7 separate regions of the Homo sapiens genome follow, and all the other regions are reported to be linked to region 1. Evidence: microRNA targets listed by miRTarBase, many of them from high-throughput screens and not tested one by one. Region 1 holds a microRNA gene; each other region holds the end of a gene's coding sequence.

Evidence for each region. The annotated mature microRNA hsa-miR-3662 reads GAAAAUGAUGAGUAGUGACUGAUG and lies in region 1 at 2,246-2,269, opposite strand. An mRNA with a match to its seed (bases 2 to 7 or 8) in the 3' UTR can be bound and repressed. Matches are read on the target gene's strand: a 7mer-m8 pairs with bases 2 to 8, a 7mer-A1 pairs with bases 2 to 7 and ends in A, and an 8mer does both.
Region 2: the mRNA of ARHGAP15 is a reported target of hsa-miR-3662. Seed matches in the 3' UTR shown: 7mer-m8 at 840-846.
Region 3: miRTarBase lists RNF111 as a target of hsa-miR-3662. Seed matches in the 3' UTR shown: 8mer at 3,193-3,200.
Region 4: the mRNA of SRARP is a reported target of hsa-miR-3662. Seed matches in the 3' UTR shown: 7mer-A1 at 2,743-2,749.
Region 5: the mRNA of HNRNPDL is a reported target of hsa-miR-3662. Seed matches in the 3' UTR shown: 7mer-A1 at 1,975-1,981 and 7mer-m8 at 642-648.
Region 6: miRTarBase lists RNF44 as a target of hsa-miR-3662. Seed matches in the 3' UTR shown: 7mer-A1 at 3,283-3,289 and 7mer-m8 at 3,298-3,304.
Region 7: miRTarBase lists OTUD4 as a target of hsa-miR-3662. Seed matches in the 3' UTR shown: 7mer-A1 at 2,589-2,595, 7mer-A1 at 2,925-2,931, 8mer at 3,309-3,316, 7mer-m8 at 3,649-3,655 and 7mer-m8 at 3,928-3,934.

The regions. Positions count from the first base shown.
Region 1 is chr6:134,977,110-134,981,625 of GRCh38, forward strand. It overlaps MIR3662 (microRNA 3662), which reads right to left and starts at 2,323; the gene lies at 2,229-2,323. It overlaps HBS1L (HBS1 like translational GTPase), which reads right to left. Exons shown (of 18, transcript NM_006620.4): 14 at 2,069-2,159; 15 at 1,570-1,678.
Region 2 is chr2:143,767,444-143,771,959 of GRCh38, forward strand. ARHGAP15 (Rho GTPase activating protein 15) reads left to right here. Exons shown (of 14, transcript NM_018460.4): 14 at 546-909. The coding sequence ends at 729. All of the region lies in intron 2 of ARHGAP15-AS1 (ARHGAP15 antisense RNA 1), which reads right to left. Among named protein-coding and RNA genes, the nearest start is that of ARHGAP15-AS1, 6.4 kb to the right of the region's middle.
Region 3 is chr15:59,093,807-59,098,322 of GRCh38, reverse strand. RNF111 (ring finger protein 111) reads right to left here. Exons shown (of 14, transcript NM_017610.8): 14 at 904-3,540. The coding sequence ends at 3,423. Among named protein-coding and RNA genes, the nearest start is that of CCNB2, 9.1 kb to the left of the region's middle.
Region 4 is chr1:16,006,087-16,010,602 of GRCh38, reverse strand. It overlaps SRARP (steroid receptor associated and regulated protein), which reads right to left. Exons shown (of 2, transcript NM_178840.4): 2 at 1,796-4,516. The coding sequence ends at 4,257. Among named protein-coding and RNA genes, the nearest start is that of SRARP, 4.1 kb to the right of the region's middle.
Region 5 is chr4:82,422,701-82,426,700 of GRCh38, forward strand. It overlaps HNRNPDL (heterogeneous nuclear ribonucleoprotein D like), which reads right to left. Exons shown (of 8, transcript NM_031372.4): 6 at 3,763-3,933; 7 at 3,337-3,429; 8 at 1-2,183. The coding sequence ends at 3,359. Among named protein-coding and RNA genes, the nearest start is that of HNRNPDL, 5.8 kb to the right of the region's middle.
Region 6 is chr5:176,525,793-176,530,308 of GRCh38, reverse strand. RNF44 (ring finger protein 44) reads left to right here. Exons shown (of 11, transcript NM_014901.5): 7 at 103-227; 8 at 491-578; 9 at 665-786; 10 at 922-1,021; 11 at 1,219-3,597. The coding sequence ends at 1,281. Among named protein-coding and RNA genes, the nearest start is that of RNF44, 9.4 kb to the left of the region's middle.
Region 7 is chr4:145,133,796-145,138,311 of GRCh38, reverse strand. It overlaps OTUD4 (OTU deubiquitinase 4), which reads left to right. Exons shown (of 21, transcript NM_001366057.1): 21 at 1-4,516. The coding sequence ends at 882. Among named protein-coding and RNA genes, the nearest start is that of ABCE1, 38 kb to the right of the region's middle.

The DNA.
Region 1 (4,516 bases):
AGTAGACTGACAAAATATGGCCATATTTTTCTGAAACAAATTTGATCCTGGTATTTCTGAATCAATATATGCTGGCAGAATCTCCTAAAGCAACAGTGAAAAACTTGCAATTCATGCTTATTTTTAAGAAACTACAGTAGTCAGGGAGACAGTATTACTATTCAAAGTCACTTCTGACCTCTTCATCCCTCTACCTCTCCATTGGCAAATATTATTATTGCATGAGTAAAAATATGCAGTAACCAACCCCTCCTTTGCCTCATAGGACATACTGCTTTCTGTGAATGAGTTCCATTCGCTCACAACAATTAACTTGTTGTTACTTGATGATCAATACATGAATTCTGAATATTTAAGTATCTTCAACTATAGCAATTTTTTTAAAAGAAGCTTTTCTTTTCTAGTGTATGGAAGAAATGGAATATAATTATGTAAGTAAAGTACCTAAATAGTACCTTAAAATATAATTTTACATGATCAAATTAATATAGAAATAATTACAAAGAATTATAAAGTACAAGGTTATCTCAAATATAGGTGTATCAGTATAAATGACCCAAATAAATGTATTGCCAACCTCTAAACCACTATCACTAACTTTAAAAACTCTTACTTTTATTTCAAAGATGCATCAAATGGTAGAAACATCACTGAGAAACATTTATTGTCATGCAGAATCTGTACTATATGAGCTAATTAGAAAAAAAAGTCTAATGGGAAAAATGGTCATCTGTCACGTGACAAAAGCAAAGTACAAAAACTATAAGAGTACGGTCCCAAATATCTCAAAACAATTACACATAAAACAAAAAATCCAGACTATTCACAAGTAACAGCTTTTCAGGATAAGTAACATTATTGTATAAAATCTCCCTCTTCCCATAAAATGTATATGTTCAAATGATGCTGGCAAACCAACCTTACAACATGCAGGTTCTGAATGTGTTGCTTCAGCACAACTGAATGTCTAGGATCCCCAGACATTTACTGTATGTCTAGGATCCCCAGAATACACCCAATACATACCAACTGGGTGGATAATATGCTCACATAAAAACACACTGACATGTAAAGATATATATCTATGGATTATGCAAGTATATGGCATTTTTATTTTCCATATTTTTAAGTTTTCCAAAATTTTCTATGCAATCTATAACTTTTATTATCAGAAAAACTGCAAATCGACATATTAAAAATGGAAACCCAGAATGATTCAACCTAAAAAACTTAGAAGTAACTAAGAAAAACTTAGAAGTAAGTAAACTTTAGAACACAGTGAAAATGTGTCTATCATTTTTCCCTGGATAAATTTTATTATCATTACTTTGTATCCTATTTATTATTAAATATCTTCTCAATGCCTTTTAAAAAGTCCTCAGGCTCAAAGATCAAAATAAAAAACAAAATAAAAACGATTTTCTAATTATAAGTTTTTCTGGATTACAGTAATAAGATGTTAATTCAAAATAAATATAGTATCACCACTTGTAAAGAAAGTTACCACTTTTAGGATAAAGTTACTTTGAATTTATAAAAACAGGAATAATAAAACATTTTGGAACTTACAGGAAATCCTTTAGTGATAGGAATTTCAATATTAAAGATGAGGATTCGGGCTCTGAAACGAGTGCAAGCTTTAATGGGTACTTTGGGGCCACAAAATATGCAGCCAACACTGTAAGAACAACAAAAAAAGAGGAAAGGTAATTGGGGGACAAATTTACATCAAATAGAAAGACCTCAAAAACATTTACAAGGAAAGTAAAACAATTAAGTAAATTAGGGACTTTTTCTAAATATTCTCTTCTGAGCTAAAGCATGACTTTAAACCATTATTAACCTTATGTCATTTTTATACATTAGAGCTTTCACTCAAAGCACATGCCAAGTATGTGTGCTGACATGTATTAATTCAAATTTTAAGTAAGTTTGCTTACATTTACACAGGTGTCTATTTTTGGTCAAATGAAATTCAAAATTGAACTAGCAGGTTGCAAAATATATGTGTTTAGAGGTGAGGTCCTATATGAAGACAACGGTTGCTTAAACTCATTTTCTCACTCACTTGATTTTGATGATATCCATCCCAACCAAAGTAAGACTAACATGATCGCCTGCTGCCGCCCAGTCGACAGGTTCATCATGCAGAGTGATTCCTGGAAATGAGTAAGAACCAAAGCATACAGTGAAACACCTCGATATCAAACCATAACAACCAACAGAGTTTGGCTGATTTGTGCTTCATCAGTCACTACTCATCATTTTCAATATGAATGGATTGAGAGTAAGAAGTGTAACTGTGAGCGTTGAGGAAAACACACTTCCTCTAGAACTGACTCTTCTAGAATACCACCCTAAACATAAAGTGACTTGTATTTGCCCATAAAAGGCTGACTTCTGCTTATTTAATCAAGATTTTTAAACTAATTGACACAATTGGTATATTCATTAAACAGGCCCCATTCAAATATTTCTATCATATTAATGGATACAGACAAAATAAAACACAGTTCAAATTATTCATAATGACATAAAAGATGGGCTGGAGAAGATGTCTAGCAGTATTTTCTTCTCGAGTTTTGCTTTTAATTAGACAACCACCTAAACAAATAATCCTTGTTTTCCAAGTAACCCATGGGACATGTACACTCAGTCAGAATTTCAAGCGGTCCTCTCAGCAGGCCCCTTAACTACTCCTGGCTCAAAAGAACTTCTTTCCAGAGAGAGATCTGCATACTAATGACTAGTTATATGAAAAGAAAAATATTAAGGAAATAGTGATAAGAAAATTTAATTTTAAAATGATCCTAGGTGTTGCTATATATCTAGAGATATACATCTATTTACCTAGACATAGTCCTGAAGGTAGTCGGAGAGAGCAGTTCCCAAGGGCAATACTCAGCTACCTTACTCAAAGGCTTTTAAAATATATCCCATATTTTCTGATTTTATGGAATACATTTATGGATTAAGTTCCTTTCCATAGAAATGTAGGCCTTTTGACAAAGAGAATGTGTAGGCCAACCACTGTGGATAGTTCTTGATTGACACATTGACATGTTCTTAGTAAATTATAATCCACCCATATCTTTCTGAAAATACTCATTTTCTATGCAGCAGGGAGAGTTTCTGACTTTTAGGGAGCTCAAGGATTTAACTTTAAGAGCTCTGAGACAATCTAGAGTTTCATGCAAAATATCATGTATGTGCACATCTGCATTAATCTGAGAAAAGAAGGCATAACTTTCTTCAGGTATCAGAGATTCTTCCTCCCAAACATGTTAGCAATTATCGTATTAAGGAATGTTTGTTAAATATCAACTTACTAGATTTAATTTTAAAATGTAAATTTAGAATGAACATATCTGAATTTTGCTATGAAATATGGGATTAAAAACAGAAGCTAGGTATTTACACACAATAGAGATTGACTTTGGCTTAAACATTTGTAGATGTTTTATACTACAAGTTCAATTAACAGTATAAAATTTTCCAAAGGTAATTATATTCTCTGGTTCTTCTTCCCCTCAATCATGTTACACTGTTCCACATATGACATTTATCAAAAAACTTTTCTCATTGGACAAACATTACAAAAAGAGGCTCTTTTTTAATACTCTATGAGCTTGATATGTTAATAAAGTAAAAAAAAAAAAGTAATTTAGAATTTCTATTTGTTGGTAGTAGATTCAGTCAAGTCTTTCTTTTGGGACAGTACTGGTTAAAGAGCCACAGTAGTACCTAAAAATGTTTAGACAGAACAGTGCTTTCAAGAATCAAGTAAACCAAGCAAAAGCAGTAAGGTTAGAATGGAGGAAGGAGAACCTCTCTGTTGAGTTAAAAGACTGGCTCTCAAGAAGTAGGGTGGTTCTTCCCTGGGGCTTCTGATAAGACTTACACTGATAAAAGATAATACTTTAGAGTTTCTCTGTGTGGAAAGTACAGAGAAGAGGAGGGTAAAGAATGTGAGACTTTCAGAGATGACTAAGGATTTTAGAGGTTACAAGGGAGCCAACCTCAAGGTCTGTGATAACTTTAGGATCATGGTTTTAATTTATGGCTCTTAATCATAAAAAAATTCTTGTTCTCAAAAAAGATCATTAACATACCAAAAAAATCGTGTTTCAAAAGTATTATAGCTCTTGTCACTTTAAAAAACAAAAGCAGAGACCTGTACTTGCACACAATGAACAGATCTATAGAAAATGACACTATTTTTAAAGTGCATATTACTTTTTATCAAAACTGAAATTTCATGATCTCTAGTGGGCACAAATAAAAAGGTCAAATGGAAATAACTGATTTTCATTCCCTTATTCATCTTTAAATATAGGTTAAACCATGTAACTTCAATAGATATTAATTTCTTAAACTTTTCAAGAAATCTTCTTTTAAAGAGAGCATATGAATTCAAGAAAAATATACATTCAAATTGATAAACTAGTCAGGTACAACTCTAGATATAAACTATAAATTAAGAGTAACAGAGGGAAAAATACTAAAATCTAAAAAA
Region 2 (4,516 bases), not on the chromosome of region 1:
ATGGAGACACTTAGAATTTTACCATATACCAAACTGTCTCAGAGCTTATCTCCTCTACAAAACATATTCCAGTTAGCATTTGCCAGGAATACTTTACTCAACACTAATCAGGAAAAACTTAATTTTTTTCAGGCTACTAATTGTGCAGACATTGTTCTGGTTATTTCATTTGGGTTCTTATATATATATTTTTTTGCATGCCTCTCACCTGTTTCCTCAATTGTCTCTAAGCATTTTAAAGGCTGAATCTTATTAATTTCACAGTCATTTTTGCTGTTTAATATACTCATTCATTTCACAAATATTTGTTGAGTACCCACAATGCTCAGCTATTATGGGGGTAAAAAGTTGGACAAGGCAATGTATCCTTTCCCCAAAACTCATAGGTTCTACTTCCATACAGTAAAGTATGTAGGGTAGAAGATTAAATAATGTTATAATGCAGTTACTTTTCCTGAATGAGAAACCTTTTTTAATCACTCCAAAGTAGCCATAACTTCACTTCAAACTCCAGTGAAATTATTTTTTTTTCTCTCTCTCCACAGGATAGTGGCCAAAGCCTCCAAGAACCTCATGTCCACGCAAAGCTTGGGGATTGTATTTGGACCTACCCTTCTGCGAGCTGAAAATGAAACAGGAAACATGGCGATCCACATGGTCTACCAGAACCAGATAGCTGAGCTCATGCTGAGTGAGTACAGTAAGATCTTCGGCTCAGAGGAAGACTGACAGACAAGACAAGCTACTGAATACGTTCACATCTGTCTTGATGCCTAATATTTTTACATTTCTGTAAACATATTTCTGAAATATTTTTTGCCTTTCAAGCGACAGATGCCTCATTTTGTGAAAACTTAATGATGATTTTGTGTTTAAGTTCCAAACATTTGAATAAAATAATTGACAATATTTGCCTCTATGTGTTCTACATTAACCCCTTTGGTGCTATGCCTTCTAGCACTTCTAGGAGCACATCATGCATGCCTCATGCTATTAAATAATATGCAAAGACTAGCACATATTCAAAAAATGGCCTTAATGCTGCTCCAGGGAATTGGGTGTGTGGTTGTGTATGTGGAGATGTGAGTGAGTGTGGTTGGGAGTAGGGGTGCATGTGCACACATGTGCTTTCCCAAGATCCAGGCTGCCTTAAACATGACTCCATACTGTTACTTGGACACGGATAGAACACAAAGAGGTAGGAAGGCAGAAGCTATTAATTTGTAAATTGAACGAAGGAGATCAGGTTCACAACCAAAACATATATATTTCATCTTTCCAGAACATTTTTGTATATATAAATATAGTCCAGCTATTTTCAATGCTATACAGTGAAATTTATAAATATAACATGTTGAATGGCAATTTTTCTCAAGAAAAATGACAGTTCAAAGCATTTGCCATTGAATTTTTTATAAATACAAATGTAGTCCCATAAACACACTATCTTATAAATTAGAAGCAAAATTAGTGCCCTGCAATTTTGATCTTTATATTACACAGGAATTGCATGACTGCTCATTTTTAATGCTAACATCCATTTTGAATCTTCATCAAACTGTATATCTTCCTTTTCCCTGGCTATGTCATTTTATGTAGAATTTTTATTATACTTCTGAGGATGCTTTATTGGTGAATTACATTAAATCCATCTAGAAAGAACTTTTTTAAAGCCTTTTTTTTCATATGCCCTAAGGATTACTTGACTAGACTTAGATTGCTTTATCCATTTGATAGTTTCAGTTGTCATGGATAAACAAAAGGGTAACTGTCTAGAATATATCAAACATTGTTTTATTTTGAAAAGTATGTTCTAGTTGAACACATCTCATACTGGTTTTATGAAAGTATTCTGCTGATAAAAATGTAGACTTACGTTTGACAGCTTTTTAATCAAATTCAAACAGAATAAATAAAACTAATCCAGTGTGATAAAGAGTAAGTATAGTTATCGATTTGTTCATAAAATGAAAAATAAAACATGTAAATAAAACGGGTGAAGCACAGATCCAGAGCAAACACTTAGGGCAATAATGAGCTCCACGGCATAGGCTGTCTGTTTAGATGGGGTATTCAGGAGACGGGGAGAGTCTGCTCAAGAGATAGCCAGATGTGCAGGCAGCTCCAACATCCATGGAGCTGCCTGAGGAAGCAGAGGACTCCCTTGTCCCTTTTGAATGTCTTCATTTTAGCAATGGCGCCAGTAAGTGGGCTTGTAGCCAAGAACAGAGAAGCCACCACAATAAGTGCTGAAGTGCAGTTTCATCCAGTGGGATGTATACACATACAAAAAGCTGAAAAAAAGTCGCATGAAGCAGAACTCCATGATCTGAAGTCACCAGTAACAGTGGGCTGGCAGACTTGCTAGCTTTAAGTGATTCTTATAAGTAAAATTGTAATTATGCCTTTCAGAAAAACATGGAGACATGAAACAAGAGTTTCTGGCATTCTATTTCAAGTCGTTCTCATTTCCATGCCATTCCGTATTCTCAATTAGGTCTTTCCCAAGACTTTGATTACTTCCCTTTTTGAAGCGTTGGGGGAGAGTAGATTTAGTGGTTCTAGCATTAAAATCTTATCCCTTCACACGTATCCATCTTTAAAGTTATTCTGGAAGCATCAGCCAGAGAGAACCAGCACTGAAAGCCAAAGAGAAGTGGCACTACCTGCTTTGGGCAGGGACTCACAGCCCCTTGTCTCTGTTGCTTTCCAGATTTATAATCTTCAAAAGCACCAGCTTCTTGATTTCCAATCTGATGGGATTTAGCCTGATTCAAACCCCAGCTGTGTCCTGTCCCTGCCTGCTAAGGGCATTTAATCAGAGAATGTGTTTCCTCTCTGGGAAAAGGCCATTCCAACGTGCTGAGCCAAAGTGCCCATCACAGGATCTGACCTAACACACTAAAGGCATAAAAAGGGTTACACCAAAAAGTTATTATTAGATTCCGTAACATCTCAAATACAGTGATGACGGCCATATCAAGTCTTCCATGTTTAGAAGCTGAGATTATAAGTATACTAGGTTGACTAAAAGGTTAGATTTCATATAACTGGTCAATATTCTCCAGCAAGAAGTCATGAAACACCAGTGAGCATTTCCTTATCTCCTAGTTTGAACCAGGCAAAATTCTAGGCACTGGTGACACAAATATTAAATAAGACAAATATTTCTACCCTCTGTAGTTTCAGCCCAGTGAGGGAGACTATCCCTAACAATTAATTACAGTTCAATACAAGATCAGGTGCCTTAGCCATCTTGGTAAGCGTGTAGACCCAGGATTCGGCACCTATACTTAAAGATGCTCAAAATGTATTGTTGAATGAATGGGCAAACAGAACAGAAGCTATTCCAGACATATTAACAATGCTCAGTGGCTGACAAATACCAAAAGACTCAGTTACAGGCAGTAACTGTCCTCTGACTCTGTTACAGAGTTAGATGTGGCTTCATTGGGAAGGTAACCTTTTCTATCTAATCTTGACCAATGAACAAGATTTACCAAAGAAAAATGCAGAAAACACACCAGGAAACAGGAATGGCACGAACAGAGTCATGAAAGACCTGACATTCTCCAAAGAAAAGTGAGAAGTTCAGTGAATAAAGGGTGAAGTGCATGCCTAGCAATTTTGGAATATAAAGCTAGAGAAAGATGTTGGGATCAGATATCAGCCATGATAACATATTCAGATTTTATCCTGTAGGCAAAAGGGATCCCATAGAGGCTGTAAAGCCAGAAAGCTATAGAGAAACTTTGTTTCTTAGAGAATCTCTAAATTCACCAATGGGCAGGAAAAAAATTAATTTGAGGAGACCAGCATTTTCTCATGTATGTGTTTGTGTGTGAAATAAAATTATAATCTTATATTCTTAGGGTCAGTTCTAGTTATGATGATGAAACATTTTAAGAAATTGTAACTTAGTCTGTAGAATGGAAACACAAGTCCCTAGAAAATCAAGCTAGTTATTATGTCCCATTTCAGCACGCCTTTACCTACCCAGGATATCAGAGGTTTCCCCTCTTTCTTATTGACACAGAAAGCTGCTTGGAGATGGTATATATTTCATCTTATATGTTGACAGTCTGACTTTCTTAGCATGTGCCATATGACAGGATCACCATGCCACAACTAGTAATTGAAAGCCATATGATGGTTCTCCCTATCCAATTAGAAAACAAACGATCCAATTAAGAAAAATTTTAAAAGCTGTTAAAAGGAAGCAATCACTTGCCAATAGTGCTGTCCTTACAGTTTAACACAGCTAGAAATTGACCTGTACTTCTCTTTTCCACATTTATTTTTGTGAATTATAAGTTAATCACCCTGTCAATTCCTAATTAAAAGGCCCTGCAAAGATTTTCATCCAAAAAGGACTGTTGCTAAGGGTTCTGGGTCAAATTGCTCTGTTGTCAAAAATGAGGAATAAAACCAAAACAACATCAACTCTCTCCCAGGAAACTTACATCTTAATACCAAAAAATGAGGACTTTCTGGAAATATAATAATCACATTTTAT
Region 3 (4,516 bases), not on the chromosome of region 1:
TTAAATATTGTGACATGTGAAGTTTTCAAAAAATATACATATATATACTGGCCGGCCACAGTGATGTGGTGGCACGCGCCTGTGATCCCAACTACTCTGGAGGCTGAGGCACGAGAATCACTTGAACTCAGGATGTAGAGGTTTCAGTGACCTGAGATCGTACCACTGCACTCCAGCCTAGGCAAAAGATGGAGACTTTGTCTCAAAAACAACAACAACAACAACAAATATACATATATATATAACAACAACACAGTATGTGTGTGTGTGTGTGTCTGACACACATATACTGTGTTCCCAGAGGTTTTGGAAGTTAGAAACTAGGATGTATTTTCTACAGATTTAAACTATTCCCATTTATGAAACACTAATAACAAAATATCCTCAAGAGCTTATATTTTAGTGTTTCATCTAGTTACAAATAACAGTTGTGGTTTTTTTTTGAGAGGGAGTCTGGCTCTGTCACCCAGGCTGGAGTGCAGTGGCGCTATCTCAGCTCACTGAAAGCTCCGCCTCCCAGGTTCACGCCATTCTCCTGCATCAGCCTCCTGAGTAGCTGGGACTACAGGCACCCGCTACCCATGACCAGCTAATTTTTTGTATTTTTAGTAGAGATGGGGTTTCACCATGTTAACGAGGATGGTCTCGATCTCCTGACCTCATGATCTGCCCACCTCAGCCTCCCAAAGTGCTGGGATTACAGGCGTGAACAAGTAACAGTTTTTAAAACAAAAGTAGTTTTCTCTAAGTCAACTGTTATGGTTCAAATGCTGAAGTGTGCTAGCAGCTAAAATAAAGTCACCAGAGTAAGAAAAACGTTTCAAATGATCAGTTTATCACAACTGTTATGGTTCAAATGCTGAAGTGTGCTAGCAGCTAAAAGAAAGTCACCAGAGTAAGAAAAACGTTTCAAACGATCAGTTTATCACAACTGTTATGGTTCAAATGCTGAAGTGTGCTAGCAGCTAAAAGAAAGTCACCAGAGTAAGAAAAATGTTTCAAATTATCAGTTTATCACTTGCATGTTAACAACAATAAAAATAAGGACTTGCTAACAAAAGAATTTTAGTTTTTATGTATTTGGACAGCTACCACTGAAATGTTCATTTTGACATATAAGATGCAGCAGGATATGGAAGACACCAAAACAAAGCACAAAAAGTCAAAATGTTCAAAGTCATTTTCTTCCTTACTTTCTTCATTACTTATCACATTTTTCGATAACTAATGGCAGTAGCTTAATAAGCTCCTATATTAACAATTCAGGTTTATGTCACAAATACTTTTATTAAATAAATTTCAAAGTAACAAAGCTTTGCCTACATTAAAAAAATCAGTAGCAATTATAAAACAAGTCAACAGGTAGTCGTGCATCTAAATCTGATGTAGTATTCAAAAATAGAGAAATCCACCTGTGCTTTACTTGTATCTGGGGGAACGTCAAGAGGACTCCATGACATACAGTTCTCCCCATCTTACACTTCTTCAGTCCCTTGGCACAGACCCGGGGTATTCCAGTGGCAAAGTAGTACATCCATTACAGGCTACTTACTTAAAGGAAGACAGGCTACTTGCTCTTTTCCCCAGTAAGATGGCAGACATAGGTCACTGACTCCTTCACTCTCCCCTGACCTTCTATAACCTCGGTTTAATCATAAGGTATGCTCTTTAAATCCATCGTCCATCTGCACACATACTATGTTGAAGCCTGTTAACATTGACAACTACTACAGTGTAACATTTACTAATATGAAGAAAAGGGCAAGTAGTCATAACTGAATGAATATAAATGTCAAATTATGCAAATGTCAATTTGAGTGAGATCACTATTGTTGAATTCCAAGATGTTTAATGTAAACTGTTTTTATAAAAACTAATTATGAAACACAAAGACAATAGAAATATAAGTTATTTATTAATCAATCCACTTACAAAGCAGGTGGCTTAATGCAAGCTTATTGACATCTTCACATATGATCCATGGGAACATGTCCTCCACATACAGACAGTGATATTACTGACTGGATGCATTTGCAATCTGGGGCATATTAAGCATATTTAAACAAATAAAATTAGGCTATCCTGTATATGAAAGTATCTTGATAATAATATGCATCCTGAAGTAGATTAAAACTTCCTCCAAAGGAGAAATGTTAGTATGTTAACTTAACTTTATATTCTATATTATGCAGTAAATCTTAACTATAGAAATTAAAAATTTTAAATCAGTGATCGACTCTTGGTAATGTATGAAGTGGGAGTATATAACCATAGCAACAGTAGGTTGACAGTATAATTTGTGCCTCACAGTATCTGCAGATTTACTGTTTTCAAGTTTAGAGAGAAATAAAACAAGAGACATGTAGATTCAGCTGACTTTATTTACCTTTAAACTAATAAAAATCCCTTAAAAGTGATCCTGGGACCTTTATAAGTTCTATGAATGCACAGATACCTGCCAGTGACTTAAATTCCAAATCTTGACTTAATGTGTCTACAAAATCAATGTAAGCAGATATCTTAACTTTTCGTGCTTAGCAGAAGACAACAAATTCTACATGTCTTTTTCAATTTCCCTAAAATTTTGTTAAATCTGCAAGTATGTACAATCTAGCTAATTGAAATTAATATTTAGTGTTCATCAGAGCTGTTTCACAGCAGCAAAAACTGAATCAGGGAAATAAAATTCTAAATGATGTAGGAAAAAGATAAATGCAATCAGAACAGCAGTCTAAATGTATGATATCAATATTCAACTCTTATCTGCACTGTGTTGAAAGGAAAAGGATACACCAAGAAAATTTATACTGATCACTCTGGTGATGTGACTACCACCTGCATCTGATTTATATGGGTTGTATTCTGTTCCCAGTATTAAGGATGGTATTTAACTCAGAACTCCATATAGTAAATATACAGCAGCCATTTTGTCCTAATTAAGGAATGTCTTAATACACAATATTATCATTTTCTAGAGGATCTTTATACATTAAACTAAAGTACATGATTGATTAAATTAAAGGTTAGTAATGGATAAAAAATTCATAATTATCAAGGCTTGGTACTATGTAAAAAACAAAAAGACCACAAAATTCTACTTACTAAAGCAGCTAACCTTGCCTGCAAGTTTAGGGTCACAAGCCCATAATATGTGCAAAGAAATGCAATACAAGGAACCATGCAAAAATACAGTAAAATGATACAGAAAAATGTCAAATCTAGAAAAAAAAGCTTTTATAAATACATCAAAATCAACTGTATACATAAACTGTAGGTCTAGCATTAGTTGTACCATATAGCAGAGCCAGCACTCTAAGTTCAATGCTTCCAAATCTGCGCAGGTAAGTCATGCCATCTTTGGTTGACTGCAGTACCAGGAAGGATGGGAATGAGAGGGAGGGCAAGAGTTCTGAAACATGGTGTCAACTTTCACTTGGCAGCTGGGCCTCAATGTCCACTCTGCATATGGGGCACTTCTTATTGGTAATCAACCATTGGTCAACACACACTTGGTGGAAAAGGTGCATACATGGAAGACGTCTATTATTGGCAAGAAAACAAAAAGCAAAAATTAATTTTATGATAATTGTACGTAGTTAACAAATTATATATGTAATAATTCAATAATGTTTTGAAGGTACTAAGCATCTTCCTCTTCTATAAAAAACACATCGATTAAATTAGCACTCTGGGCAATATAATATATAAATGATCAAGATAATTAACTTTCAAAGCTACAGGACCAAATTATATAAAATCTTAAAAACTGTAAGAACACAAATTACACTGCCAATTATTCCAGTTTTGTTTTGGTACAGGAGCTGCCAATGCCCTGGAGTTAGCAGTATGTTACCTGTCACATAATATTGCAAATATATTTTTAAAAATCAAATCATCACTGTATTTGTAATGCCCTTTAAAAATACATATTATCTCAAATATATATTTATTACATCATTTAATTCTCTCTCAAAAACATTACAATTCATGTGGCAAATATATAGTAACTACACTTTCCTCACTAAAAAATGTCTTATTGTGCAATGTTATTTTCTATCAAGAATATCTTTACACATTAAACTTAAGTACATAACTGATTAAAGGTGAGTAATACTTTTTTCACGGAATAATTGTTATATACACTTAATATTGTGCTACTGTTTAACAGGTAAGTTAAAAGGAGATGTAATGATTTGTTTGTTTACATCATGCCAAATTACCAATTAGAAATTGAGAAATAAAGCCCCCAAGCAAGATAGGGTAACATTAAATCTGAGTGTTAACAGTGGAATAAAAGTTACTGACTCGTGTCCATTTCTACTTCTAGCAACTGTTAAGAGTTTTTATACACTTTTCAGACTTCCTAATATCTTGTTAAAATAATAGCCTTAAAAAGTATCCCAATTATTCCTTGAACAGTATTGTCAATACTGTAAAAGCAATTAAGTTCCAAATTTATAAACCTTCATTAGAAATACAGTGTGCAAAAAACCTTATTTGTCGTATGGTAGACAAT
Region 4 (4,516 bases), not on the chromosome of region 1:
AGAACAGAATATACTAGGCCCCTGCTTTGATAGCCGGCGCCTGCTTGTCGGGGCCCGCTTAGTTGCCCTCACCCAAACCAAAAAAGTTGAGTCTAGAATGAAAGTTCACTAGCCTGCAAAATAGCTCGCTTTGTCTATTCTTATCAGCTTGCCTGACTACCTAGGTCATAAGTCAGATACTTAAGAAAACCCTAAGCTGGCTATGATTGCAATGTATTGTGGGCTGCAACAAAATGCAACAAGAAAATCCTAAAGAAAACACCTAAAAGCTCCTACCCAACAACCAATAGGCGACATCCAGGAAGATTGTGATCCTACAGTACTCAGCCTATGAGGAACCAGGGGAGGGACCTGCGCACTAGGGGATAAATTGCTTGTTGTAACTGTGCTGGGTGTGCCTGCCCACCAGACACCCGATCTCGTAAGACCATCATTAAAAGTCTCTCTTCCACTGTTCTATGTGCCTCTGAGCCCATTCTTTGGGTTTGGACAGGTAAGTTGGTTTCTCACAGGCCTGATGACCTGGTCTCACACCTCACCTTCCCAGAGCAACTTCATCACCAACCTATATACCAATGCAGCCCCATTGCCAGCCTCAACCTCTGACCAGAGCTCCAATGGGGAATGGGTCACCACCTGCCCACATCCCCTCCGGCATGTCCCACAGTCCCTCACACGACATCCGCCTCCTGAACCTGTCATCTCCCCATGTCCCCACTGGCTACTCCGCCTGTGTGCTCCATCTCAGCGAGGGCCCTACCACCCATTCAGTCTCCGGACACTCCCCACATGCTGCCGGGTGCCAGGCTGGATCATTCTTCACTCACTTATTGAACCGCTGTGACCAGTGTGTTCACAGCACAGTATGGGGCTGCAAGCGCAGTGCGCAGTCACATTGCCTGAGGTTTGGATTTGGGCTCTACCGGTTTCCAGTTAGTGACCTTGGGCAAAGTATTCGACCTTTCTGTGCCTCAGTTTCCTCTGTAAAATGGCAAGAGAAATCATGCCGACCTCACATGACTGGGGTCAGGTGAACTGATGGGGTGTGGGGTGTATATTCAATTGCCCCGTAATGACGACAGCTATAGTAACTGACGACATCAATAGTAATGATGACAGCTCCCTTTACGGAGCAAGTATAAGTGGTATAAGTGCCTGGTTCCTCTGAATCCTCACCAAGACCCCCCAGGGTTCAATTCTGAAATGTCACTTTGCTGGGTGCCTGGCATAAAGTAAACATTCATTATTCTGGATGAAAGGAGTATTGGTTAGAATGAGTCTGGCTTCTGAAAAACAGACCCACTGGTTGGCTGGCCCCAAGGCTTTAGTCCCAGACCCAGCAGGTCCACACCTTCCCTGTCCAGGCCTGGACCCAGTGTCCTCTAGTCTGATGAGAGGGCGACACCTGCTGGTGAAAAGCCGGATGTGCAGCCACAGGTCTCCTTTCTCCTTGAGGGTCTCAAACTCCCTCTGCAGCCTTGTCCTTGGGGCCTTCAGGAGAGTAGAATGGGCATATGTCGACCAGATTGTACTGCGTCCTCCTCTCTAGTCCAAACCATTGCTCTCCTTTCTCAGGATTAAGACTCAGCCTCCGGTGCCTCCTCCCTGCAGTCAGAAGGCCCGGAGGGATCCTTTCCAAAGGTACGTCTGGCCATGACGCTGTCTGCTCACAATTTCCAGTGCTGCCATCTGGGAATAAGATCTAAGATCTAAAGGTCTTGTTGCAGCCTGCCAGGCCTCACCTGATGCAGCTTCTGCCACTTTTCTTTTCTTTTTACTTTTTTGGTTTTTTTTTGAGACAGTCTTGCTCTTGCTCTGTCACCCAGGCCGGAGTGCAGTGGCGAGATCTCGGCTCACTGCAACCTCTGCCTTCTAGGTTCAAGCAATTCTCTCACCTCAGCTTCCCAAGTAGCTGGGATTATAGGTGCCCACCACCACGCCCAGCTAATTTTTATATTTTTAGTAGAGACGGGTTTTCGCCAAGTTGGCCAGGCTGGTCTCGAACTCCTGACCTCAGGTGATCTCCCCCCGCCTCCCCCTCCTTGGCCTCCCAAAGTGCTGGGATTACAGGCATGAGCCACCGCGCCTGGCCTCCTGCCACCTTTCTGATCTGTTTGTTTTGTGTGTGTGCATTGCCTGTCTCCCCCAACTAGAGGATAAACTATTTTGTGGCTGGGCCTCATTGTCTTATTCATTGCTCCATCTCATGGTTTAGCCCAAAGCCTGGCATTCAGTGGATGCCCAATAAATACTTGGTGAATAAATGAATGAATGACAATTACCCTAGCCAGACTGAACGACTGGTCCTTCTGCCCAGAGCACTCCCCACTTGCTCCCCCACCCCACCCTTTTGTATAGCTTAGTCACCGGTCAGATCTCATTTTCGGCATCACTTCCTGCAGGAAGTCCTCCCTGATCTCCTCTCTCTAGAGTGGGCTGGTTGTCCTCCAGCATCATTCTGTGTTGCCCTTACTGTTGCACTTCTCAGAAGCTATGGCAATTGTGTGCTTTCTTTCTGGCCTCCCCCACCTGGCTGTGAGCTCCTTGAGGACAGGGTTACATTTATCCTCTGTGTGTCCCCTCTGCCTAGAAGAGACGCTACCAGGATGAGAGGGTATATACCTTACAGTTACAAGCAAGAATATGGGCACCAGACTTGCCTGAGTTCTAATCTCAATGGTACCAGTCTATGGAACTTTGAGTCCATTCTTCAACCTCTCTGTGCCTCAGCTCTCTAATCTATAAAATGGTCACAAATACAGTGCCCATGTTGTTTCTCTGACACAGAGTAAATGGTCAATTACATGTTAAATGTTAGCAGCTAGTATTTGTAGGAACCTAGTAAAATAGTCATTGAATAAATTAATGACCAGATACGGTGGCTCACACCTATAATCCAAGCACTTAGGGAAGCTGAAGCGGGAGGATAGCTTGAGGCCAGGAGTTCAAGACCAGCCTGGGCAGCACAGTGAGACCTCTTCTCTACTAAAAGAAGTCAAGCTGGGCGTAGTGGTGCACCTATAGTCTCAGCTACTCGGGAGGCTGAGGCAGGAGGATCACTTGAGCCCAGGAGTTTGAGGCTGCAGTGAGCTGTGATTGTTCCACTGCACTCCAGCCTGGGTGATAGAGTGAGACTCTGTCTCTAAAATAAATACAGAAAAACCCAGTGATTTTTATCTGGGAGCTTTGAGACTGACTTCCTTAAATAGGTTGCTTTAGGGTTTCTCACAGTGCTGTGCATGCCTTAGACTCACAGACACCTTCACACCCACACCAGTAACTCCACCTCCTGCTCAGGGAACACGATTGCCCTGAGGGGTGAACCTCCTCCCCCCACCTTTTTTTTTTTTTTTTGCTATCCCTAGAGGGCAGCATGAGCCTGGTATGCAGTAGATGCTCAATAAATAACATGTCTTGTTTTCATTCGTTCAAACATGATACTCTATTTTTGAGTACCTCCCTCCCTTTTGAGAAGCCAGATCCCCTTATTTCCCATCTCAGATCCCCAGGTCCCACCTGGGCTGCCTTATGGGATGGAGTCTCCTGGAGCCAACTTCCCTGAGCCTCCCAGCCCCAACTGGCATGGCCCTCGAGTCTCCCCACGTGGTATCCCCTGCCTTTGCAGTGACCTACACACTCGCCTCTGAGCCAAGATGGCAGCAAGAAACCCGTTGCCCCTCCCCGTCATGCTGGGGCATTCTGACCACTGCTCTGGCCTGCCCTGGGGTAAGATGACAGCAGGTGGCCCTGGGGAGGGTGGATTTTCTCAGGGCTGGCCCCTTCTCATCTTTTAGATCACACTTTGTTGCCTGCGCAGAGAGGCCCTTACCAAGCACTGCATCAGGAAAGGTCTTCACCCCAATCACTCTCCCTCTAGCATCCTGTTTCAGTTCCTGCAGAGCATTCATCGCTGTTCAAAATCATCTTCTTTATTTATTGGGTTACTTTATTTATTCAGGGTGGGTTCCCTCCACCCCAAAAATACCAGCTCCAGGAAAACCATGGTATCTCCCCAGCACTTTGCAGGGCCTGGCATGTGGAAGATGTACCAGTAATATTTGCTGTATGAATGAATGAGTCTCTTCATGTGCAGGTGACTTATCCTGCCTCTGCCACTCGACGGATGTTTCAGATGCCCCTTAGCGGATCTAATGATGTTTCCTTGGCTCAAGCACAAAAGACTCCTGCTTAGCTGGGGAAGCAGGGCCAGGCCCTGGGAATTGCAGCCTCTGGGCATCAGAGCCCGGCCCTTCCAGCTAATCGGCCTGCCCACAGACACAAGAGGAGAGGGCTTTCAGTGAGTCCTTGACTGTTCCCCAAGTTGAAGACCTCACAGGCGCAGCCTTCACGGGTTTCCCCTTAGCCTCGGGAACCTCCTGGGGGCAGAGCGGGCTGACTGGGAAGGAAGCTGAGGCCACAGACCCTCTGCAGAGCGGCAGGGTGGCCCTGGCCTGGGCAAGGCATCCCCCACCCATGGGGGTCACCCGAGTCAGATGGGGCCAGTTTTCCCCACAGA
Region 5 (4,000 bases), not on the chromosome of region 1:
AAGGCAAATACGATGTATAAAAACATATACAAACCGAGCATTTGTTATAGGTACTTTAGAATTAATTTCTATCCTCTTCCCGAGGATAACATCACACAGAATTTGGTCTAAACAATGTAAAAGGCAAATACGATGTAAAAAACATACACAGAGTATTTGTTATAGGTACTTTAGAATTCATTTCTATCCCCTCCCCAATAAACTTGTCCAATTACTTTGTTCTAAATTAATCCTTGGGAACGAGATCTTGATAGTAGCTTCAGTTCATCCAACCTAGGACACTTAGCCTTAGAGTATCTGTTCAAATTTGCATCAGTTGGTGAACTGATAGACCCTGAAATCTGAATTAAATCTAGAGTTCAAAGCCCAAATCTAGAGTTCAAAGCCCCTGCAAGAAAAACCAATTCTCACTCCCCCTTCAATTCTTTGCAAAACATCTCAATCATCTCTAGATGTAGTGTATTTTTTCTCAGTCATACATATCAAGACTTGATTAAAAGTTTGGATTTTGTTTAAAAAGGCTTTATTCATTTTTTGATCAGGGAAAAGGACAATCTCAATGTCAACTCGTCACCTAATCATAAATTTGAACTTACAGGATTCACTACCCTAGACACCGCACCTACTGACAACACAACTTAAAAATGAACTTACTTCCATTCCCTAAAGTTGCATGTTGAATGAACAGAATCCCTTCTAACAGCCAACATTGGTACTTGGCCTAAGTTTAAGAATAGCAAAACAGCAGCAAAAAAGAGGCCAAGAGCATTATAATGTGATAGCCCAGGAAGTAGAATCATTGTTAAGAAAGTTGCAGGCACCAAATTAAAAAAAAAAAGGGAGGGCTCATGAGCATAAGAAACTTACCAGTTTTGTGAGATCACCCGTTGTGTGAGATCAACTACTCTGCCTGTGAACACGTATGCCAATCCCAGTAAATAACACTGAGGCCAAGGTCCCAAAATCCAACTACACTGAATGCAAAATCCAAAGCTTTTTATTATTCCAGGTCCTCTGAAACCTGGATATAAAACGGATTCTTTTCAATGCACCCAGAGGGTCCACTGTAATGACTCAGTCACATTTGTAATGACTTAGTCACATTTGTAATGACTTTGTCATAACCAAGATACCTTTTCCACTATTCCTTTCTGAATATGTAAATATTTAACTACTTAGTTCATGCACTGTGTCAAAAACTAGATTTACTATCAAGACTTTTTCTAAACTCACAGAGCATTAACAGCTAATACAACTTCCTCAGGATGCCCAAACAGAAAACATTTTGTTCAATCTTGTGGCGGCTCTGAGAAAACACAACTAAATCTTATTTTGCCACTATTTTAATTTTTCGACCAAACTCATACCTTTCTACCAAAATCCTTGAGTTGTAACTACTTCCAATGCTCTTAAACCATAGCTCCTACCAGTTTTACAGTGCTCCTTTTGTATCTGAACTTTTATCAAGAATTACTCATTGTGTTATGATTACAAAGCTTTTTCTAGGTGACCACTGATTAAAGCCAAAGTAATCAGCAATTCAAAAATGGCTTTCCAGAGACAGGAACAAAGTAAAAGGAGCTACTAACAATTTTATTACAATCCAGAAGAAATATGGTCTACTAGAAAGCTTCTACTAATCACAACACTTATGTCTTCCTTTCAGGACAGTCTTCAGATAACCAGAAGGGAAAGAACATTGTTCAAAGGTGTGGTAGAAATCTCAGTTACAGGGAGAAGATGAAGCCTTAAGAGCATAAAATACACCTACAAATTGGAGAAGAGGGTGACGCTGGCTGGCTATTTATAAAGGACCACAGTTTCTCTGTATGGACCAATACTCTACAAAATCAACTGTGCCTTAATTATTGCTTATTTTAAATTACATTTTTTACAGAGCTATGTAGTACCTGACGCAGAAAAGCAATCACATAAGGAAGCATTTATTTGAGGTTTAACATGAAATGATACAAATAAAATGTGTATAAACAAATCCACATTGAGTCATAACACAGATAGCAAAGGACAAAGTAAAAACAAAGAAAACTAATTGGCAGCTATATACAGTTGGACACAATGGTGTCTTGTACACTAGAAAGTCTTTTACAAAATAATCATCTTAGATCAACAGAAGACCAATCTTCAATGTCGTCCTGCAAGATGGGTTACTTTAACATCTCCTCCTAAAAACAAAAACAAAATACCAGTTAGATTTGTGCAACTCTGACAAGCTTTTAAAGGTCCACTTTCATGAATTGTTTTAAGTCCTCACTTTATTTTCTTCAATAATTAAAGATCATATGCATATTTATTGGTAAAATACAGTTTGGGTAGTCAATAAACTCACCCTGGAGTTCCCAAATGACATTAAATTCAAATCTATTCAGGAAAGAATCTGGGAATACAACCTTCCCATATTCAGAGGTTCAACTATGCTAGATTAAGGTCTACTAGAAGCATCTCTAGTAACCCAAGTAAAATGCTATCACAAACACCAATTTCTAATAAGTTTATTACAAGAACATAAATTGATCTGTGCATATGATCTTTAATTTATATCCCAGATTTAAAAGTTCTTGTTTTGGTTTGTAGATTTCACTATTAGCTATAAAAAGAAAAAGCAAGCATTAAATCTTAAAAGAATGAACACTTAAAATGAGGCTCCACAATTGAAATACAACACTAAACAGAAGACCAAAATGATTAAGCTGTAAAAAGGCATTTATGTACTTTAACTCCTGTAAAAAACCATTTAAGTTAAGTTTAGACACTTAATCTCCAAAAAGATTAAAAATGAAGCCAAAGTCTGAAGTTTTCCACTTTAATCTTTACGCTGGTACATGAAGTTGGAAGAGACCATACCACAGGACAGCGTTTTCTGGTGTATGCCTTGCGCTCTGCCCGCAACGTGCGACCCCCAGAGATAGACGTGGTCAGGGTGACACACGGCCTGCAATGAAGTTCCCGCTGGCGGGTACAAACAAGGTATAATGTCAGAGTTAGAAGACAACATTCTTGTTTTCCTTAAGTTGTACCCATTTCAGTACTTTACCTGTTAATAGTTCTAAAATGTTTAATTATTCCTCTAGACCACCTGGTACACAAAAGCAAACAGAAAAACTCTTAAGTTTTTCTGCAATACTAAAGAAAGTGAGATAAGACTTTAAAGTTAAAGATCTATAGACACTTTAGGCAAAACAGGCTCATAAAGCAATTAAAAAATCAACAATTTAGTAAAAACAGGCTACATAGTATTTTGTTTTTACGTTTCATTTGTCTATTGATCTTTAAATTAAATTAGACATTTCTACTGTTTTCCTGTACTCTTATACACACCTGTTTTCTCCAATGTTCTCCTTTAGTATGGCTGGTAATTGTTTTGGTGATTGCCACCCCCTCGAGATGCCTTGCCATAAGTGCTCTGTTGGCCTATTTTGAAAACACAGAATTCTCATTAAGATAGTTTTCTACAAAACTTTCTTTACAAACACAAACTATTAAATCTACAAATCTTTGCATGCTAAATAAAAAGTATTAAGATATTTTAGCACCCATTAGATGCTACTCATAAATCATACATCCTAGTTCATTTATAACCACCAGTCTATGTTAGTATAATCATCCTATGATTGTAACATGCCTCAAACACTTAACTCCGAACACTTTAATGGAAAGCCCATACACACAATTTCAGAACAGGATTGTATGTTAACAATGAATTTTAATACCACTGCTTTATAAAATTAAGTTAAATATTCTTACCACTGTAGTCTGCATATCCCTGTCCATATCCATAGTTCCCATAGTTATACCCAGTATAATCATATCCGCCATAGCCACTATAGTTTTGATCACCACCATAGGCACTATTGTAATTTCCATATCCTTGATCATAATAGTTATTAAATCCTTGGTTCCAGTTTTGGCCCTGACCTGAAACAATGCACAATGATTGTTAGGAAACAACTTCTGACCCCCAATTCTAACATAAAATGATGCG
Region 6 (4,516 bases), not on the chromosome of region 1:
GGGCGGCTGGGAGGCAGGCCCACCGGGCTGACTTGCACCTGGGCTCCGGGGCGGCTGGGAGGCAGGCCTGCTGGGCTGACCTGCACCTGGCCCCTCTTGCAGCCATATTCTCACATGATGCCACGGAGACTGAGCACCCAGAGATACCGCCTGCAGCAGCCACTGCCCCCGCCGCCCCCACCCCCACCCCCACCACCCTACTACCCCAGCTTCCTGCCCTACTTCCTGTAAGTATCCGCACATCCGCCCCAGGTCCCTGATGCCCTGTTCTCCTGGAACCTCCAGTGGTTAGACCTAAACACAGCTCCAGGGGCCCCAGGGCCTCTGAAGCCACCTGGCGTTCCCCCCTTAACCTGACAGGCACGCCAGCTGGGCTCCCTTCCCCGCTGCAACGTTCTGGGCTCTGTTTGCAAGGAGGGAGTCAGGAGAGCGGCTCTGTGTGCCCCACTCCTGACCTTGACCCTGGGCCCCCACACTTGTCTCTCTCTAGCTCGATGCTGCCAATGTCACCAACAGCAATGGGGCCCACCATCAGCCTGGACCTGGACGTGGATGATGTGGAGATGGAGAACTATGAGGTCCCATGGAGCCCCATGCTGGGAGGTGGGGTTTGGGAGACCTGCAGCCCTGGGCGCCGCTGACCCCGTCTCCTGCCCGCATGCAGGCCCTCCTGAACCTGGCCGAGCGGCTGGGAGATGCCAAGCCCCGGGGTCTCACCAAAGCAGACATAGAGCAGCTCCCGTCGTACCGCTTTAACCCGGACAGCCATCAGTCGGAGCAGACGCTGTGAGTACCCTGCCCCACCTCCCACCCCTCTGAACACAGCTGGCTGCCGTGGGACGCCCCTCTCAGGGGAGTCACACTCCACTGAGCCTTCCCATGGCCCTCAGCGTGGAGGTGACGCTCCGCGCCCCTCCACAGGTGTGTGGTCTGCTTCAGTGACTTCGAGGCGCGGCAGCTGCTCCGAGTCCTCCCCTGCAACCATGAGTTCCACACCAAGTGTGTTGACAAGTGGTTGAAGGTAACACTGCCCAGGTCTGCTCCTGGGTATTCCTCATGCAGTGACGGGGGGATGGGCTGGCCTGGGCTGTTTCCCTCCTTGTCCTTGTCATCATCTCGGAAGTTCTGGCTCCAGCGGACCAAGTCCCCCCAGGTGGCTGCACAGATGTGGTGGGTTGGGGCTGGTGAGAGCAACGCCTGACGTGCATGTTCCCACAGGCCAACCGGACGTGTCCCATCTGCCGGGCCGACGCCTCCGAGGTGCCCAGGGAGGCTGAGTGAGGCCACGCAGCCGCCTGCCCGGGAGAACCCTGCCTGAAGCTCTGGAAACTTGTGGGTGGGGCCCAGGGAGGATGGGGAGGGAGTGGCCCAGGCCTGCCCCTTCGCTCCTGCCTGCATTTCCAGAGCTGGTGCCAGGGTCAGCCCAGCGAGGAGTCCCTGCAATAAGCCCCTGCATTTGCCAAGCTCCAAAGACTCCCTCCCTAGTCTGCCTGCCTGCCCGCCCGCCACGGAGCTGCCTGAGTGTCCCTGATCGGGTCTCCCTCCTGTGCACCCTCAGGTCCCTCCTTTTCCTGCTGGCACTGAGTGCCAGGGGTCCGCTCCCTCAGTGGGGCCGGTGGAGATCCTTGGCCCCAGGATGGGCAGACAGAGCACCATCCTGGGTCAGAAGGTCTCATGCTCTGAAATGGCGTGCCCTCTGCCCAGGTGGCACTGCCAGGTGCGTAGACAGACGGTGTCACGAGCCATTTCCTGAGCCCCAGGGCTGAATCCCCCCTCCTTGACCCCGAACAGTGAACTCAGGCAGCTGGCTCTGTGTTGGCTGCTGTGAGGGCTGAGTCTGGTTCCCTAGGGGACCCTCATCCCAGGAACAACATTCCAGCCCCACCCTCAGGCTGGAGGGCGTCCCAGCCTAATCCCGAGCTGGGGCACACGTATCCTGAGGGGCTTGGGCCATACGGGGAGAGGGAGCCCTGTGTTCCCGGTGGTTGTCCCTCCCAGGGATGCAGCCAGACCCGTGCCCAATCTCCTCTCCCTCTGTTGTTTTGCATGAACGTGAGGAGCAGCAGTTTTTGTTCATTCATTTGGCCCAAAATCACGTGTAGGATTTGGGGATGTGGATATTTAAGACAATTTCTTTTTTCTTTTGGTTTAATAGGGGCGGGTATAGGGACCAACTGGGACCGAGTGCCCAGGGGGCCGAGCACGGTCATGCTGGCCGGCCTGCATGCATGCGTGTGCCGGGCTGGGCTGGGCGGCCGGCGGTCGTGGGGCAGGGTTGGGGGTCTGTGCTCAGCTGATAACTGCCATGCACTGTACTGCACACGTCCCTAGAGCCTACCGGGACCCGACGCTTTTCAGGGCATTTCTCCCTCCAGCCAGGGCCCAACTCCCACCTGCCTGGGCGAATCTCCTCCAAGGAAGTCCCAGGAGGATGGGGACCAGGAAGGCTGTGGACCCCCATCTCCAGGGGGCCTTCCCAGCCTGATCCCTGTCCTCCAAGTTCTGGAGGAGGCCGCTGTAGGGTCTGGCTGAGCTTCCCACCCACTTTCCCTGGTCCCAATCCTTTCTTGTCCTATACCCAGCTGGGGTTGCTGCCCTGAACGAACTGCGTGTGGGGCCGGCACATCCTAGCAGGCAGCCCCTGGCGCCTGCTGCCTCAGGGATGCTCCAACCACCCTCGTTCTCCTCGCAGTGGCCCTGGCTCCCACCTCCCGCCCCAGCCTGCCGTGGGGCCCGTCAGCCTGGTCCCACCCCCATGGAGAACCCAAAGTCTTACTGTATATAACTCCAGGTGACGTTTCTATATTTATAGCAGTGTTGAAAACCCACGTGTTTTACACAGAACCACCCTCTCCAACCCCTCCCTTCCCGACCCCAACAAAACGTTTTCAAACCCCTTACAGTTCCTGGGGCAGGCGGAAACAGGCTCACAGATTGTGTGTCGGCTGCAGCAGTGATTCCAACAAGCAGCTATTGGGGGGGAAACACAGCATTTAAAAAGATCATCATTAAAAAACAAGATTTATACAACAATTACTTAGGATGTTTGTGATCTGCCGACCTTGCTATAGATGCCATGTTACCAATGATTTCCTGTGGTGGGGGCTTGCCATTGTTTACTCTCTTATTTACCAACTTCTGGCCTAGGCATGACAGTGGGCACCTTCCCCCAGCCCTGGCTGGGCCCAGCGCCTGTGTTCTGTGTTAGAAAGGTTTTATATATATATAAAATTACATATATATGTAGAAATATATGTAATTTTGGGGGCCCTGTTCCTTGCACATTTTACAGTTACCTCATTTTTCCCATGTATGTATTTGAGAAAATGCTAATATATAGAGAAAAAAATGGTTCTTAAAGCTTAAATGTGTGGTTTTTTCCATTCCATGGGATTCACATTGGTTTGTAGCATTTAACATAACTAGTATGTTGTATTATATATATGTGTATACTGATTGAAATTTTTAACAGATTTGTACTTTTTTTAAAATGAAAGTTGCTAGTTCTGCTTGACCAAGTAGTGCAATCATTATTTTTTTTAATATTGTTGCTGATTTCAGAGGGATATTCACTAATAAATGTATGATGTATACCAACGACCGCCCACGCTGCCTTTGGCTGCCCGTGTCTTTTTGGTGGGAGGTGGGATGGGGATGAGGCTTAACACCTGTAATCCCAGCACTTTGGGAGGCCGAGGCTGGTGGATCACTTAAGGTGAGGTGTTCGATACCAGCCTGCCCAACATGGTGAAACCCCTTCTCTACTAAAAACACAGAAAAATTAGGCCGGGCGTAGTGGCTCATGCATGTAATCCCAGCCGGTGGCTCATGCCTGTAATCCCAGCACTTTGGGAGGCTGAGGTGGGCGGATCATGAGGTCAGGAGATTGAGACCGTTCTGGCTAACACGGTGAAACCTTGTCTCTACTAAAAATACAAAAAAAAATTAGCCGGGCGTGGTGGCGGGCACCTGTAGTCCCAGCTACTCGGGAGGTTGAGGCAGGAGAATGGCGTGAACCTGGGAGGCGGAGCTTGCAGTGAGCCAAGATCGTGCCGCTGCACTCCAGCCTGGGTGACAGAGCAAGACTCCGTCTAAAAAAAAAAAAATTAGCCAGGTATGGTGGCACAAGCCTGTAGTCCCAGCTACTCGGGAGGCTGAGGTAGGAGAATTGCTTGAATCCAGGAGGTGGAGGTTGCAGTGAGCCAAGATTGCACCACTGCACTCCAGCCTAGGTGACAGCGGACTGTGTCTCAAAAAATAAAAATGAATCTCAAGGTAGGTTCTTCTGTCCTGACTGGATCAGGGGGCTCAGGCCTGTCATGAGGAAATAAGGTCTCCCTCATTTCACAACTTGTTTTGTTTTTCCAATAGGAACAAGTCTCACTATGCTGCCCAGGCTGGTCTCGAACTCTTGGGCTCAAGCAGTCCTCCCACCTTGGCCTCCCAAAGTGCTGGGATTGCAGGTGTGAGCCACCGCGTCCAGCCTGCAACCTTGCTTTTCTCTGCGCGGCAGCGC
Region 7 (4,516 bases), not on the chromosome of region 1:
CTTCTGCATGCTGATTATGAAGAGTCACTAAGTGGCAAGAATATGTTCCCCCAGCCATCTTTTGGACCCAATCCATTCTTAGGCCCAGTTCCTATTGCACCTCCTTTCTTTCCTCATGTTTGGTATGGGTACCCTTTTCAGGGATTCATAGAAAATCCAGTAATGAGGCAGAATATTGTCCTGCCCTCTGATGAAAAAGGAGAATTGGATCTGTCTCTGGAAAATCTGGATCTGTCTAAAGATTGTGGTTCAGTTTCAACAGTAGATGAGTTTCCAGAAGCCAGGGGTGAACATGTACATTCTCTCCCTGAAGCAAGTGTGAGCAGTAAGCCGGACGAAGGCCGGACAGAGCAATCTTCCCAGACACGAAAGGCAGATACGGCATTGGCTTCCATCCCTCCTGTAGCAGAGGGAAAGGCTCATCCTCCCACTCAGATTCTAAACAGAGAGAGAGAAACTGTGCCTGTTGAACTTGAACCTAAAAGGACCATTCAAAGCCTGAAAGAAAAAACAGAAAAAGTAAAAGATCCTAAGACTGCTGCTGATGTGGTCAGCCCTGGGGCCAACTCTGTTGATAGCAGAGTGCAAAGACCAAAAGAAGAGAGTTCAGAAGATGAAAATGAAGTGTCTAATATTTTGAGAAGTGGTAGATCCAAGCAGTTCTATAATCAAACTTATGGAAGCAGGAAGTACAAAAGTGATTGGGGCTATTCTGGTAGGGGTGGATATCAACATGTGAGAAGTGAGGAGTCCTGGAAAGGACAGCCAAGCAGAAGTCGGGATGAAGGTTATCAGTACCATCGAAATGTCAGAGGGCGACCATTTAGGGGAGATAGGAGGAGATCAGGGATGGGAGATGGCCATAGGGGACAGCACACTTGATGGTTGTTGCCGAAGTATTTTCTAACAGAAACTCTTAGGTGGAATGTTTCTGAAGGCTTTAAAAAAAATACAATAAAGTAAAAACCGCAGTTGGAACTCTTTCCTCTCCCCAGCCCCCCTTACCTTCACTCCCATACTGGACAAGACATTTTGGACATGAGTTCAAGGGGGCAGGTTAATTCCTGGCATTGCCAGTTTTCTTCATTCAGAATCTGTTTGTTGATCAAGTGACTGTCCCCGTAAAAAGTAGAAGATAAGTTTGTTAAAGTATTTTTTATAAACAGCTTAATATAAAACATTATAGATTTAGTGTTTGGCTTTTTTCCTTATAAGTTTATAAGTTTGATTTCAGATGTTGGAAATGTGTGCTTTATAGTGTTTACTAAAGTGACAAGAAAATATACCATTTGACACACTATAGATTCCAAACATAACGTTGCACCAAATAGAAATGTATATTTTATTATGCAATGCCTTAGTCATAAACTGGGCTCAAACAATTCTCAGCCTAAAACACTGTTGTCTTTTAAAATGCTTCCAACCCAAAGGCCTTTCATCTCAATATCTGTCAAACTTGAATAATGTCTTCTCTTTAATATTCACATAAGGCAGCCTATTAACTGTGTCTTAGCAATGTTGTATATAGTTCTTTTAATATTCATAAGGTATATTTTTGAATTTTGGTATTTGTTGAGATTGCATAGAAGAATAGTAGGAAATCCAATGAAATGGCTGTTTCCACCAAGAATTCTTAGCACTGGTGTAAATATCATGGTGCCTACTCGAAAGAAATGTAGATGCTATGCATTTTGAAAATAATCTGCATCAGTTAGAACTGCAGAAGTTTTTTTAATGCCACTTTAACACTAATGCACTGACAGATTCTAAATATTTTGTGAGAAGAAATGTTAAAAATTTTTAGCTTGACAGGTTTCTAGAGTTGTTTTCTTCCTCCCCCCCCCCCCCGCACCATTGGTTGTGTATCACTTTCACTTTACACTTGCATGTTCTACTTGTCAGGGCTGGAACTATTGTATAGAAGATAATATGATTGTGACTTCTAGTTCTTTTCTAGAGGATGCTGCTAGAAAATGGTTTTGCTTTGTATTTTATAGCTTGTTACCCTTAGGTAGGTAACATCTTACATTCTGTTTTCTTCCAGTCTTTGCAGTATTCACTAGAGGTTCCCTTTGCATGTTGCACTCTGTTCTCATTTGGAGATTGAACTCTGAATTAACACAGTATTCATTCATCTGTGTTATTTTGTAAAAATAACTGTAGCTTATATTCTTTATTTGTGCATACCAATGTGAAAATCCACTCTTTTATTATGTTGAGATTATCTTCTGATCAGGAAGTTTGAGTGCTATGCAAATAACATAGTAGTAATTTCTCTTTGCATGCCATGTGTAATATACCTAGCCAAAACCAGATGCGGTGACTTTCTTTTTTTGTAAAGCAAATTACTTAAGAAAATACAATTCACTTGAATTTGACAAACTGAAACAGATGGGTTTTCTGGGTTCTCTGATAACCTATGGGAATGTTTGGATGCCAGTTGGGCTAGTGAATCGCCACTGTACTGTAATAATGGTTATTTACCTCTGTGCTGTTTTAATTACCTAACGTCTGTGTAACTGCTGATTTGAGTAGTGATTAGCATTTAGATAATGTAACAGGATTTTAGAGAGCACTTTGAAAGATAACATTTTATTATGATGGTGCTAGGTAAAAAATTGTAAAGACTGGGATGGTTGTGTGGAAAACTTTTCTTGAGAGAACCTATTGAAAGGAATTTGTTGTCACCTTCTTAACTAGAATAGTTGTTGAAGGTACCGCTTAAGCCATTTTTTTCTTAACATCGGTGGCTCAGTTAAGGAATGAGAAGATAGAGGGTCCTCCACTTTCAGCTCATGCTTTTTTATGTAGGACTAGCTTACCTGATTTTAATGAAAATCACATTTTGATACAAACACCAGATTTGAAAGTTCAATGTGTTTGATCTCAGGAGTCCAAAATAAGTTGTTGCTTCTAGTGTCCTGCATTTTATTGACTGGGGTTTGATCTCAGCTTCTGAAAATGTTTAAAAATTGGAAGGAAATACTACTCATATCTTCATTGTCACTTTGTCTTACCTCAATTGAGTAACAGAATATAGCTCCTGAAGGAAACACTGATTTGCTTTCTGTTTCCCATATCTCACCTCTAGGATATGATGGAAGAAGTGCTTGAAAGAGAATTTTAGCAGATGGTACTTTTCTCAGTGACCTCTGGAATAAAAGAACTGACTTTTGATAGTTTTAAAATTAATCTTTGCATGAAGGTTGGTTTCGCTTTTTTTCCTTTAAGTTTGTTTTTAAATGTATTAGTCCAGGGGATTTTGCCTTATGCTGAGGTCAAACTAAGGATAAGCAAGCTTTTGTCCTTCATTTTAACTGTTATGTCATACTGTTATGTTGACATATTTCTTTATAAGAGAATAGAGGCAAAAGTATAGAACTGAGGATCATTTGTATTTTTGAGTTGGAAATTATGAAACTTCACCATATTATGATCATACATATTTTGAAGAACAGACTGACCAAAGCTCACCTGTTTTTTGTGTTAGGTGCTTTGGCTGAACTTGATTCCAGCCCCCTTTTCCCTTTGGTGTTGTGTATGTCTCTTCATTTCCTCTCAAATCTTCAACTCTTGCCCCATGTCTCCTTGGCAGCAGGATGCTGGCATCTGTGTAGTCCTCATACTGTTTACTGATAACCCACAAATTCATTTTCATGGCAGACCTAAGCTCAGACCCTGCCTTGTCCTGGCAAGCATAGGTTTTCCCAGACCACAATGCTGATATATCTTATTTAATGCAGACTGTATTCTTGCAGCGTGTTGTTTCCTTTGTGACTCAAGGTTGAATTAAAATGCCTGTGAACTGCAAACTTGCTTATGATTGACTTGGTGCAATAAAGTTCCTTTCTAACCATTTCTGGTTTAGAAAACATTCAGCCATCCTAGAAACTAGCAATATTTATTTTTGCCTCTTTCGTTTTACCTTCATTTTTAGATGAGGTAAATGTTTTGTCTTTTACTTAAGGGTACTAAGCAAGGTCCACTCTAGTGTAGCTGAAGAGAATGCATATTTGGCTACACTATTTCTGTTTACTGTATTTTGCTTCCTACTTTATGTCTAAATGCTATTGTTTGTTTAAAATCCTAATAATGTCTCATTTCCAATATGTTATTTTCAGATAACTAAGGTTTTGCTACTAATGTCAGCCATTTACTCTCCCACTAATTGGGATTATTTTTTAAAAGAGGTCTTTCTCCCCGAAATACAAGTTTTAGAAAATCTTAGAAGAGGGGTGGGTGCATGTCTTAATGCTGGGAAGCGGCAACTTTGGGGTTGAACTTACTTGAATGGATTAAAAATTGCATTGTGTTACAGAGCTAGAAAATTTTATGTATGAAAAACGATAATAGCCTTACACTGAGTACAAATAATACTTTAAGAGCATGTGAAGATGTGATCATTTGTGATGTTACTTGTAAAAAAAAGTATATATACATATCTTTTGAAGTGTTAAAAGGAAACTAGTACTTTATATTCTTTATCATATCACTTTTTGTAAGTGTTGAATATATT